2 separate regions of the Homo sapiens genome follow, and region 1 is linked to region 2. Evidence: fine-mapped expression QTL. A gene starts in region 2. The other region holds a variant in brackets. All regions are shown on one strand. Distances are between the middles of the regions.

Region 1 (2,911 bases), 66 kb after region 2:
CATTAGCCGAGGCCAGCAGAGTTGAACACTGTGGAGTTGAGGTATTTGGCATGGGTACAGTAGTCCTCTTAGGTGCTCCTTCTTCCTCATCATAGGCAAAGTGAAATTGGGGGTGTTGCAAATGGTTGGGTACTGCTATTTAAGAAAAAGTGGCACATTTAGTGTGAATGACTCAGATATCCAGGTAGATTGGTCATATTCATGAGATTAAAAATCTCGACTACACTTAGCCACTATGCCCAAAGAGGACTTCCATACTTTTTCCAAGGCTCCATCATTGCTGTGACCCCTTTATATTATTCCCCTTTCTCTTTTTATCAAGAGCTCCTCAAGCAACCCCAAGTAACCTCATGCTGGCTCTGAAACCATTTCCACTAGTAAAAATTGGCAAGATTGAAGGGAAGCTTCCACAAGCTCAAGCTGAATATGCCTCCTGCTTTTAGTGCCAGACTTAGTCCTGTGTGAATTCTACAATTTTAAGTCGTTGCACCAGAGCCTTGAAAGATGATGACACACTTGTCCTTTGGAGCTGATTGAGCAATGGAAATATGCCTTAGAGACATGATAAATGCTGCAATAGACAATCCTTCAAAACGAGTCTCTCCTGAGATAGGAGTGAGTGATTGATTGCATGCCATTTTTATTGAGGGATACTTAATCTGTGGTTACATATCTCCAGGCAACTGTATATTCAGAAACATTTAGATAACTGACCAAAGTTTTCACCTTTCCAGAAGTTTAAAGGGACCCATGTAGTACCAGGGAATATAAGGACCAGTCCTTTGTTGGCCACATATTTGCTGTGTGAATTTAAGCACGCCATTTTTCTTCTCTGGCCTTCTGTTTCCACATATATTAACAGAATACACAGGATTAATGGGAGGATTAAATGACACAATACTTGTGCAAGTAGATCTAAAGCCCTATATGGAATTTATTGCTTTAGCCTTGTAGCGTTAATCACTTGTGGCTAGAATAGAAGGCTCCGTTTAAAAAAAGAAAAGGCTGGGTACAGTGGCTCACATCTGTAATCCCACAACTTTGGGAGGCCGAGGCGGGCAGATCACGAGGTCAGGAGGTCAAGAGGTCAAGACCATCCTGGCTAACACGATGAAACCCTGTCTCTACTAAAAATACAAAAAATTAGCCAGGCGTGGTGGTGGGCGCCTGTAGTCCCAGCTACTCAGGAGGCTGAGGTAGGAGAATGGCGTGAACCCAGGAGGCAGAGGTTGCAGTGAGGCTGAGATTGCGCCACTGCACTCCAGCCTGGGCGA[C/T]AGAGCGAGACTCCATCTCAAAAAAAAAAAAAAAAAAGAAAAGAAACCTACATTTTAAACACTTTATGGATATGGAAAAACAAAAACCGCAGAACTCTTTATTGCACAAGAGTAAGTGGCAGTTATATGAATGAAGCGGGGCATCCGCATGATCTCCTGTGAGTGTTTTGAGAAGATGATCAAACTTAGAGAAAGCATCTTTGTGTCTAATTTTTTTAAATGATGAAATTATTTCCCACTTTCATTAATATTTTCCTGTGAAGAAATTGAAGTTATTCTTTGGGCCTAAATAAAAGTGACAATTACATGTTTTCTTCTCAGAGGCATTGAGAAACTTGGATTATAATGTTTTTCGTACACTGAAGTAGAAGTCCAGAAAAGATTTGAGTTATTGACACAGATCTTCTTTTTTTTTTGAGACAGAGCCTCACTCTGTCACCCAGGCTAGAGTGCAGAGGCCTGATATCATATTTCACCACAGCCTCAACCTCCCTGGGCTTCGGTGATCCTCCCACCTCAGCCTCACTAGTAGCTGGGACTACAGGCGTACCTTACCACACCCAGCAAATTTTTGTAATTTTTATAGAGACAGGATTTCACCATGTTGTCCAAGCTGGTCTTGAACTCCTGGGCTCAAGGAATTCTCCCGCCTCGACCTCCCAAAGTGCTGGGATTACAGGCGTGAGCCATCGCAGCCTGCCCCTGAATTCCATAATTTCACGTGTAATTAGAATTCAAGACCTTTTTCTTGAATATTACTCTTGTCCATATTAATTTTTTTCTGAGTATGGCTCTAGCTTTATCATTTTTTTCTGACTTAACTCTGATTAACCTCTTTTTTCATCACCAGTACTTGGCAGATTTTGTAGATTTCTAAACTCTGAAAATCACTGTTTTTCTGAAAACTGTCATTTGTCTCATACTTTCCTCCAAAATTATGAATTATAGGAAACACCCCAAAGAAGTATCATTTACATTAGCTGTTTACAAGAAAATACAGGGTTTCATTTTTAATTTTATTTTCCCCTACTATCTCTAAGGAATACAACTTGTCTTGAAAGCTCCCTGACAGCAGCTATCCATTTAATCTGCCAATTGCAGTATAAAAATTGGTTATTAAATGAAAAACAATTGTATACCTCTCACAGAGGTTGTCATATATTACTATTTTTGTCAGCATTCTCACTTATAACTCTGTTAGGATAATCCTGGGAAAATTTCTAAAATCTTCATAGCTCTTTCGTTAGGTACATATTCCTTGAGACAGAGGAAATCTGAGCAAAGTAAATTTCTTCATTATCTTAGATCAACAAAAGTGATACAGAGCTTCTGTCCTGTTAGCTCCCTTTGGACGCTTAAAATAGGCACTAGAGGTTGTCCAGTAAATGCTTCATATCCATCTACTAGTGCTGAATATTTGTGAAAATATAGGTGATAATGAATTAGACTCGTTTGAATGGAATTAAGTTTCTGTAAAGTTTTACCAGATTGTCTTTTTTTTGTTTTTTGTTTTTTGTTTTGGTAAAAGCAGTTTTGCACCTGTAACTAATTTAAAGACGAAGAAATTGCACATGTAACTGATAGCAACTGCCATCCAACTCTTATAACCTCAGAATCAAGATCACGTGGCTATTTGA
Region 2 (2,911 bases):
GAGTTTAAGAAATGTTTTTAATGATTAAAAGTCAGTGACTTGTGAATAACCATGTAACTTACAAACGCAAGGAACTCTGAAAGTGTGCAGCACCACCGATCAGAAGAGAAAACCAAGGGACCCGAAATATGCTTTAATTAAATTTTCTTTTAAAATGTCACTGGAAAGAACATCTTGGGAAGACGGCCTGGCCGATCGCCGTGTGAAGGGCAAGCCACTCTGGCCGAGAGGGAGCCCCACACCTCGGTCTCCCCAGACCGGCCCTGGCCGGGGGCATCCCCCTAAACTTCGGATCCCTCCTCGGAAATGGGACCCTCTCTGGGCCGCCTCCCAGCGGTGGTGGCGAGGAGCAAACGACACCAGGTAGCCTGCCGCGGGGCAGAGAGTGGACGCGGGAAAGCCGGTGGCTCCCGCCGTGGGCCCTACTGTGCGCGGGCGGCGGCCGAGCCCGGGCCGCTCCCTCCCAGTCGCGCGCCGCCGCCCCCGCCCCCGCCCCCGCCCCCGCCCCCACCCCCACCCCCACCCCCACCCCCAGCCGGCGCCCGCGCCCGCCCCCGCGCCGGGCCCGGCTCGGCCCGACCCGGCTCCGCCGCGGGCAGGCGGGGCCCAGCGCACTCGGAGCCCGAGCCCGAGCCGCAGCCGCCGCCTGGGGCGCTTGGGTCGGCCTCGAGGACACCGGAGAGGGGCGCCACGCCGCCGTGGCCGCAGGTCAGAGTACGGGTGCCCGCGGCGCTCGGGAACCGGCTGCTGGCTGGGCGGGGAGTGCTCAGGGAGGGGGCGCGGAGGGCTGGGGCCGAGGGTCTGGGGGCTAGGGCCGAGGAAACGGGAACTGACGGGGTCCCAGACGGATGAGAGCTGGGGAGAAGGGGGTCTCGGCTGAGGGGTCCGGGGCTGAGGCAGGGTCATGGTCCGGCAGGACCCGGACTGACGGGTCGCGGGCGGGCGGCTCACGGGTGACCGGGTGAAGGGGTCTTGGGCTGAGGGCACCCGGGCTGAGGGTCGCGTCTACCGGAGCGCGCACTAGGGGCGGAGGGCGCGGGCACAGAGAGCCGCGGCCGGTGCCGACTCGAGTGGACGCGAGCCGGTGCGTCCCGGCTTCCAGGACAGCCCCCCTCGGGAGAGCGCCGGGTGGGCGCGGAGCCGGGGACACGGGGACCTCCGCGTCCCCGGCGGAGGTGCGCAAGCGTCGGGAGCCGCTCCGGGGGAACTTTGGAGCAGGGTGTCTGGACCCGGGGAAGCGAAGATCCGCGTGCGTCCGTCCTGAGGCCGCGCGGCACCCCTGCTGAGGAGGAGGTCCCGTTCGCTGTCCAGAGCCCAGGGGCGACCGCCGCTTGGGGACCGGGGGACCGTTCAGCGAGGGGCGCGCTTGTAGCTGGCCAGGCCCTGTGCCCTGACGCGTTGTGCTGGCCCTACGCCCGGCGGAGGGGCTGGGGACGGGGACTGGGTGCCTCCGTGCCTCCGCGGATGGAGCGCGCAGCCAGGACCCCCAGCCGCACCCCGGGGGGCTGGAAAGGCGAAGTCGCTGCTTTGTGGGCTCCTGCAAGTGCCAGGCGCTGACCACTCCTCCTGGGAGCCTAACTGAGGGGGGTAGAGGCAGCAGAGGTTAACAGAAATCTCAGGTCCCTTGGTGGAAGGTGGGTGTGTAGTCGTGGTACTTTACGCCTCGGTGTTTAGGGAGGAGCCTAAGGTAAGGAGTCAGAAACGGGGAGTAACCGAGCTGCGGCTTTTATATAAGGTCAGTGGTAGGTAAGGAAGGGGCCTTAACCTCTGCTGGTGACCAGAAGCCTGCATTTCTGCATTCTGCTTAATTCCCTTTCCTTAGGTGAGTTGGCTCACTCTCATTGCATTTTGTTGGAATGTGTTGGTGATAGGTCCGAAATTTGCAAAATTATTGTATTATCCTTATATCATTTTTTTTTGCAGTGCTCTTGTTTTATAAGAAGAATCCAATTCACTTGGGTCATAGGCTAACGGTTGTAAAAATAGTGTCATTGTTATAAAAGAAATCAAGTCAAAAATAGTCGTCTGCCATGAAGAAACTAAAATTTTTCTTCTTTTCCTTGCAAGATTAGGGACAAAATGTAAAGTTTATTTGTGTAAATTATCATTTGGATATAAAACCAGACAATGATAAACTGAGTTGTATAATACCTATTCCTGGAAAACCTCTGATTTTGAAGTACATTATTTTAACCCCAACTGTTTCTGTCATTCGTGAGACAAATTGTTAACTGGATTTATTAAGAGAACAATGAATAACTTAACTCTTTAAAAGGACCTGGGCAAATCTTCGACAGGTTTCAGGTATTTTATGGCAGTCTTTCTGTCTATTGCTAAGTGATCGATTGCTGACTGAGAACAGAACCAACTGATGGTGCTAGATGATTTAGAAAACCTTTCTGGTATAGGGACTGGCATGGACATTCACTGTGGCTTTTCTCTTAAAGAAATACCTTTCACTCCTAGGGGAGTTTGACAGAAGACACTCATAGATGCTACCAGTTAGCATTTGGAGTAATATATCAAAACATTCTGTTCAAGTTTTAAAGTAAGTTTTGTGTAGTATATTTTCAATCAGATTCACTTTGGAATCAAATACACTTTATTTGATTCCAAATAAAGTGTATTTGAATATTCACTTTAATATACGAAACTTTAAAGGTAATGTCTCAGCCAAAAAGTGAAGTGTATTACAAAACTGTCCATTTTTGTCTTCTTGTGTACTTCACATAATTTTTCTCCCTGATTTAAATTATATGATATTTGATAGTTAACTTGCTAATAATTATGTCTTAAGAGATCTTTGAATCAACTGGTGGCCATCTCAGTCTTTTAAAACTCACTTGAAGGAAAAGAGAAACACTAATGATGGTTTTTTTTAAAATCAAAAACTTTTTTCATATTTACAAGT

The links. PIP is the estimated chance that this variant, and not a neighbour inherited with it, causes the effect. A credible set is the group of variants that fine-mapping cannot tell apart.
Region 1: its variant is the best candidate, but not a certain one, in a credible set for the expression of PPARG in whole blood (TOPMed, PIP 0.70).

Annotation. Positions count from the first base shown.
Region 1 is chr3:12,353,461-12,356,371 of GRCh38, forward strand. All of the region lies in intron 2 of PPARG (peroxisome proliferator activated receptor gamma), which reads left to right. Among named protein-coding and RNA genes, the nearest start is that of PPARG, 66 kb to the left of the region's middle. The variant C/T (reference allele first, on the strand shown) is at 1,275.
Region 2 is chr3:12,287,313-12,290,223 of GRCh38, forward strand. It overlaps PPARG (peroxisome proliferator activated receptor gamma), which reads left to right and starts at 1,758. Exons shown (of 8, transcript NM_138711.6): 1 at 1,758-1,822. RefSeq lists an enhancer at 1-319.